2 linked regions of the Homo sapiens genome follow. The protein of the gene in region 2 purifies or fractionates together with the protein of the main gene of each other region. This does not show direct contact. Each region holds a gene or a part of one and is shown on either strand. Other genes may lie near its edges.

Evidence for each region. Proteins that work in one complex are often made in the same cells at the same time.
Region 1: the proteins of SYTL4 (region 2) and STX2 purify together in Homo sapiens (affinity purification with mass spectrometry, with the first as the bait; one study listed by BioGRID). This does not show direct contact.

Annotation. Positions count from the first base shown.
Region 1 is NC_000012.12:130,797,751-130,801,250, reverse strand, and holds part of STX2 (syntaxin-2), read left to right. Parts: coding exon 1-98; intron 99-2,060; exon of another isoform or gene 2,061-2,083; intron 2,084-2,615; coding exon 2,616-2,726; coding exon of another isoform or gene 2,727-2,750; exon of another isoform or gene 2,751-2,861; intron 2,862-3,336; coding exon of another isoform or gene 3,337-3,408; exon of another isoform or gene 3,409-3,491; intron 3,492-3,500.
Region 2 is NC_000023.11:100,701,122-100,704,621, reverse strand, and holds part of SYTL4 (synaptotagmin-like protein 4), read left to right. Parts: intron 1-1,436; 5' UTR 1,437-1,529; intron 1,530-2,514; 5' UTR 2,515-2,584; coding exon 2,585-2,694; intron 2,695-2,948; coding exon 2,949-3,164; intron 3,165-3,292; coding exon 3,293-3,402; intron 3,403-3,500. UniProt on the Homo sapiens protein: Modulates exocytosis of dense-core granules and secretion of hormones in the pancreas and the pituitary. Interacts with vesicles containing negatively charged phospholipids in a Ca(2+)-independent manner.

The DNA.
Region 1 (3,500 bases), on a different chromosome or scaffold from region 2:
AAATCGAGTCACGTCACAAGGACATCATGAAGCTGGAGACCAGCATCCGAGAGTTGCATGAGATGTTCATGGACATGGCTATGTTTGTGGAGACTCAGGTAGTTACAGACTCTTGCATTCTCCAAGAGAGATATCAGTCATGTGTAAAATCTTACTGCATCCCACTCTGTCTAGTGGATGTATCTAGGAAAGCTGTTATTTTGGATCCACCAAATTCAGGTTAATTGCAGTGTTATATGTGATGCTGAAATGCTGGAAGCAGCTTTAACAGTTGAACTGTTAACAGGAAGGGACTGGTTCAGTTGATTAAATTATGGAGTGTTCATAGGTCAGCCTTTTAGGCAACCATAGGCAACCTAAACTTTGTTCATGGAGAATTCTTACTGAAATATGCAGATGTTTGTGCTAGAATTAAGAGAAAAGGGAGATACAAAGATCTTCTGTGTATGCCCGTACATATGTATGAGTACATAAACACAAACACATGGCACGAGCTTGGCTCCATAAAACAGTATCCACAGAAGGAAAGGCGTATATCAAACAGTGTAATGGCAGTGAGACTATGGGAATTTTAATCTTCTCTAAAAGTATTTATTTTCAGATTTTCTATAAGAAGCATATATTACAGTAATAACTAGGAGAAATGTCTGAAAGAATCAACCCCAAGTGGGGATACAATCTATGACACAGATGCAAGCTTGTGCCTGTTACACGGGGTTTCCCATCTGCCCAGTAACACAGATAGGGAGTGAAAGCAGGTGTGGAAAGGCCCTTCTGAGTGAACCGAAGAGTTAATGCAATTCTTAATAAATAGAAAACTCCTCTGGGAGGCTGAGGTGGGAGGATTGTTTATGCCCATGAGTTCAAGGCTGTGGTGAGCTATGATCATGCCACTACACTCCAGCCTGGGTGACAGAGTGAGACCCTGTCTCCAAAAAAAAAAAAAAAAAATACACACATATATATGTATGTATGTATATATTGAACTCTCCATGTAAAGTACGGGATGGATCACAGATCACATGCTCTGTGATGTGCATGGGTATGTTCACACTCGCTCTTTGTCTTTGAATAAGGTCTTCTCGTTATTTTTCAAATACCATGGAGATAAGACTCTGTTGCTGGTTAGGATTCAGCTGACCACCAGGTGAAGCGGAAGCATTTATATCAAACCATCCTAAGTAAATGGTTTCCTCACTTGTCCTGAGCCTGGTTTCGGATCTGTTTTGGCTGGAGTCATCCCCTAAGTAGGTTCACATCTGATGGGCTTATTTTCTGAGACTGCCTGGATTGTGTAAGGATAGGAATCCATCCACACACAGGATTGTTCCTGCCTGCTTCAGCAACCTTGTTAAGAAACACTGTATTTTGAAGAACTTTATAATGAGAATGTGTGTGAAAAACTCAGGCACCATGCCTATTTTTTTTTTTTTTTTTGAGACAGGGTCTTGCTCTGTTGCCCAGGTTGGAGTGCAGTGGTACAATCTTGGCTCACTGCAACCTCTGCCTCCTGGGCTCAAGCAGTTCTCCTACCTCAGCCTCCCGAGTAGCTGGGACCACAGGTTTGCACCACTACGCCCGGCTAATGTTTGTATGTATAAGCATTTGCTAGAGGAAACCAACAGCTACACAGAGGGCAGGGATGGGACGATCTTACTCCTTTTTGATTTTGGGGGCCCCGTTGCCATTCATTATATGGTAAGTGGAGTGTGGGGAGTCTGATTACCATTGGTTACTTATTTCCAGGAAGCATTCCAAAGGAAACCAGCTGGACAGAAAGAACGAGAGATGATTTCTGTAATTACTAAAGCTTTTGTAGTACCTTAGACTTCAATTGTAATTGCTCTATACCAAATGCATTGCATTAAGCTCCGTTAGAAAAATGGCTGCATCCCTGGCTTTGTTTCACTGTTTCCTTTTAGAAGTCTGTTGGTATTGCATTATATTGACTCATCTAATGCAAATGTGTGCATAGTCAGAGATTACTAGTAAGTTGAAGTTTGTGACTGAGTGAGTTAACTCTCCGTCATTCTTCAATGCTTTACGATTCACTGCTGCAGGTTGTGTCTGGACAGACAACCAGGTAATACGTTACCTCCCTCACACTTTGCTGAATTCACCTCTGTTTACATTTTGCTCATTAATGTAGTCAGCTGAGTGTCAGATGTGAGCTATGCTCAGTTTACTGATTTAAAGAAGTAGTTACAATTTTCTACTTTGTGGAAAAGATGTCATTCTTTGTATATTGTCTGTCTGTGCATAATGGTAAAATACTAGTTCAACCAAAAGCTGGCTGCCTCCCTTCACCCTGCCCATCTGTCGAAAGTGTCTGCGTGTTAAAGGTATCTCAGAATTGACTTGAGGTGCCTTTAATTATCAACATGGTGGCCCATTCCTTTTCATTCTTTTTAAAATATAAATTGAGTTTTGATTGCTTTGCACTGGCACATGTATAATGGCCTCATCTTTTATCTTTCTGTAAATGTGAAAAAAACCCTCAGTATCCATTACATGCACATCGTGTTTATATAAAACCTTTGTTCTATGGTTGTCTTAAAGATACATGATTAAGCCATTTGAAAATGTCTTCTAAGTTTGAAACTTTTTGTTTTAAGGGTGAAATGATCAACAACATAGAAAGAAATGTTATGAATGCCACAGACTATGTAGAACACGCTAAAGAAGAAACAAAAAAAGCTATCAAATATCAGAGCAAGGCAAGAAGGGTGAGTTTGGCTTCGAAGAATTAAGCTGCGTTTTTCTCTTCATTTGGTTTCAAGTTGTAATACATTGATGTAAGCCTGCCTAAAAGGTATTCCAAGAAATAATTAATTAATAAATGTTTTATTTTAAAATGGAAATAATTTTTTTTGCTAAAAATTTAAAAGGTTTATTAGATGAATTATTTGTAGTTCATCTTTTGTGTTCTAAGTAATTGAAACCCTAGGGCTGGGTGTGGTGGCACGCCTGTAATCCCAGCACTTTTTTTTTTTTTTTTTTGAATTGGAGTTTCGCTCTTGTTGCCCAGGCTAGTAGAGTGCAATGGAGTGATCTTGGCTCACTGCAACCTCCACCTCCCGGGTTCAAGTGATTCTCCTGCCTCAGTCTCCTGAGTAGCAGGGATTACAGGCACCCGCCACCATGCCAGGCTAATTTTGTATTTTCAGTAGAGAGAGGGTTTCACCATGTTGGCCAGGCTGGTCTTGAACTCGTGACCTCAAGTGATCCGCCCATCTCGGCCTTCCAAAGTGCTGGGATTACAGGCGTGAGGCACGGTGCCTGGCACCAAATTGTTGGCTACACATTTGATGCAGTGAACATTTATTTTTAATTTAGGTTATTCGTGACTTCTTGGTTTGGAGGAAAGAAGAGAATTATTTGAGACCGTGGACCTGCAGTCTTAGGTAGCACCCACTTAAAGGGATCCTCAAAAGAAGGGAACCCCTTTCACTCAAGATGCACAGACTTTGCATTAAAAAGGGTTCAGGGAACCCTGTGTG
Region 2 (3,500 bases):
AACTTTTTGCCTTACTTCCAAACCTGTTTCTTTCCTTACATCTTCTATTGCTATGAGGGCTGTCACTAGCCAGTCAGTTGTTTAATCTTGACTGTGAACTAGGCATCTTTGACTTCACCTTCTTCATCCTCTCTGCTCAGTCAGTCTCCCTATTCTGTCAATTCTACTTCTCAAACCTATTCTGTTTTTTCTTGCTGCCTGGCTCAGGCCTTTATCATTTTAGAAGATTCAGCAAGTATTTGTACTCCAAACATTGTGATTGGCCCTTTAACACACATTATTTAATTTTTTAAACAACGTTTGAGGTGGGTCGTTTTGTAGATGAGAAACCAAAGAGTCAGAAATAAAATGACTTCTGCTGGGCACGGTGGCTCTGTCTATAGTTCCAGCTACTTGGGAGGCTGAGGCAGGAAGATCACTTGAGCCCAGGAATTTGAGTCCAGGCTGGGCAACATAGTGAAACTCTGTCTCTAAAAATGAAAAATAAAATGAAATGAAAAATAAAATGACTGGTCTAATTGTTTAGAGGCACAGTTAGTAAATCTAGATTGTCTTTTGCTGCAGTATTGTAATAATATCTCTGCCTCATTTGTATTGTTTTCTTTTTTGAGATATAAATGGAAGATATATGTAAAAACAAATTAGAACTATGTGAAGTAAAAAGTGAAAGTTGCCCCTTCCCAATTCTACTCCCCAAGGGAAACCAATGATAGTGGCTTTTGTTCTAGACCTTTCTCTTTGCATATACAAATATTTAGATAAATTCTTTATAAAAGATCATTTTTTATTGTCCTACAACTACTTTTTCACTCATGGCCATATTTTTATGTCAGTACGTGTGTATCTACCACATTTTTAATGGCGACATAATGTTCCATTATGGGGACATATTATTTTGTTTAATGATTCCTATGTTAAATAACTGTTTCTGTTCTTACAAATAATGTTGCAGTAATAGTCTTGTGCATATACTCTTGCTTGTGCATTTGTATGAATATTTCTATTAGGTAAATTCTTAGAAGTCATATTGCTTGGTTAAGTATATGCCTATTTTAAATGTATGTACTACCAAATTGTCCTCTGATTTGTCCTCTAAATCAGTCTTTCATATTATAACTAGAGCGATATAGCTATAATATGTCTTTGTAAAGTGAATTTCATCATGTGATTTCCCAGCATCAAAAAGCAACATCAGAGATGTTTGGTGGATTTCTATTGTCTATGCAGTAAATTTTAAAATTAAAAAAAATTTTTTCCAGACAGGATCTTGCTTTGTTGCCCAGGCTAGAGTGGGCCACATGTGATGGCGTGATCTCAGCTCACTGTAGCCTCAACCTCACAGGCTCAAACAATCCTCCCACTTCAGCCTCCCGAGTAGCTGGGAATGCAGCCGTGTACCATCATGGCTAGCTAAGTTTTGATTTTTCTTTTTGTAGAGACTGAGTCGCCCTGTGTTGCCCAGGCTGGTCTTGAACTCCTAGGCTCAAGAGATCCTCCTGCCTCAGCCTCCCAAAGTGCTGGGATTACAGGTGAGAGCCTCCATGCTGAGCCAAAATTCTTAAAATTTTAAAAAAGTTTTTAAGAGTTATGTAATCTGGTCCCAAACTATCTTTCCTACCATTCTTCCCTACCAGGAAATTTGTCCTCTGATAAGGCAAAATCCACCTCTTCTGTGAAATTTCCCATGTATACTGCTCTCTTTCCTCTCTCTATGCAAGATAGAATGAGTTGCTTTCTTCCCTAAGTTCTCATAGCACTTAATTTATAGTCCCTTATAATCCCTCTGATAGCACTTAATGCGTTGTACTGTATTTATGTGTGTCTGTCTCCCCTGCTACTCTGTGATTTTCATAAGGGTAGGAACTGTGCCTTACTCATCTTTGTATCCCCAGCACTTTACACAATGCCTGTCAGCGTAGTGCTCAACAAGTGTTCATGAATTTGGGAAAGATATCCTGGAGGTAGTGCTAGAGTGCTAGTATGATAAGAACTTTGAGAGATAGAGTAGGGGGTGGAAGTTTTGAAGTATAGCAGAAAGCTGACTGACTCCTGGGAGAATGGAAGCTGGTTAGGAATAGACAACTGGGCTTAAACTGGCAGGAGCCTTCATGTGCTTTTCTCCTTCACTGCAGAGACCAGCTGCCTGGTTATTTGGGTTAATAGGCTTGAGATTTGAGAACATTTAAAGTATTAAAAATTGGATGATTGAGGACTCACTTGGTGGAGGGGGAGATTGACTCAGCTGTTCTATGTTCTTTCCAGACTAAGATGCATATACTGAATAACCAATCCTTTTCCCAGAGTCACGAATAACTTTTTCTTTCTGAAAAATCAAGGACTCTTCATTTTCAGGGCATGTTTCGGATGGGAGTAGGAAGACTAAATAGGTCAGATACTTCTACTTTGTCTCTTTAGCTTGGCTCAAGGGGAAAGGAACCTATTGAAAGGGTTTAGGGCTGTGGGCCTATTCTTGAGTAAATCATCTGTGTGAAATTAGTTCTTTTGTCATTTCAGGCAACTCTGGTAGCTCTCCTTGTCTGGTTGTTTTGAAGAAAGAAGAGTAGAAGAAAAAGTTGAGTAAATCATGTCGGAGTTACTGGACCTTTCTTTTCTGTCTGAGGAGGAAAAGGATTTGATTCTCAGTGTTCTACAGCGAGATGAAGAGGTCCGGAAAGCAGATGAGAAAAGGATTAGGTAAGAGTTCCCCAAAACGCATGGGGTCCCAGGCCTTTGACCAATGATGTCTGGGCTTTTCCTTATGTCTCCCACCTGACTTTCATAGGAATTTGTATATGTGATGTTTACCACTACTTATTGGGTCACGCTGGGCTCTGAGTTTGTTGCTTCCACAGAACCAAATAGTCTTACTGTCTTTACCTCTCAACCCCTCTCCATCCAATCTATGCATATCCTGAATCCACTTACGCTTCTGTTTTGGGTCTTGGCAGGCGACTAAAGAATGAGTTACTGGAGATAAAAAGGAAAGGGGCCAAGAGGGGCAGCCAACACTACAGTGATCGGACCTGTGCCCGGTGCCAGGAGAGCCTGGGCCGTTTGAGTCCCAAAACCAATACTTGTCGGGGTTGTAATCACCTGGTGTGTCGGGACTGCCGCATACAGGAAAGCAATGGTACCTGGAGGTGCAAGGTGTGCGCCAAGGAAATGTGAGTGTCACCTATGGCTGAGTAGAGAGGGGGCGAGGCCTTGGCCGTGGTGAGAATTTCTTTCCTCAGCCTTTATTAGACAAGAACCATTCTTTATCCATCTGTCATTTTCTTTTATTTCTTCCCAGAGAGTTGAAGAAAGCAACTGGGGACTGGTTTTATGACCAGAAAGTGAATCGCTTTGCTTACCGCACAGGTAGTGAGATAATCAGGATGTCCCTGCGCCACAAACCTGCAGGTACTGGACCTGTCTAGAGATGGTTCTTGGTATGGAATCCTAGTGTATTCTGACTGGTAGCATCTTAACTCCATGGGCTCAGCCAGTTAGTGGAGAAT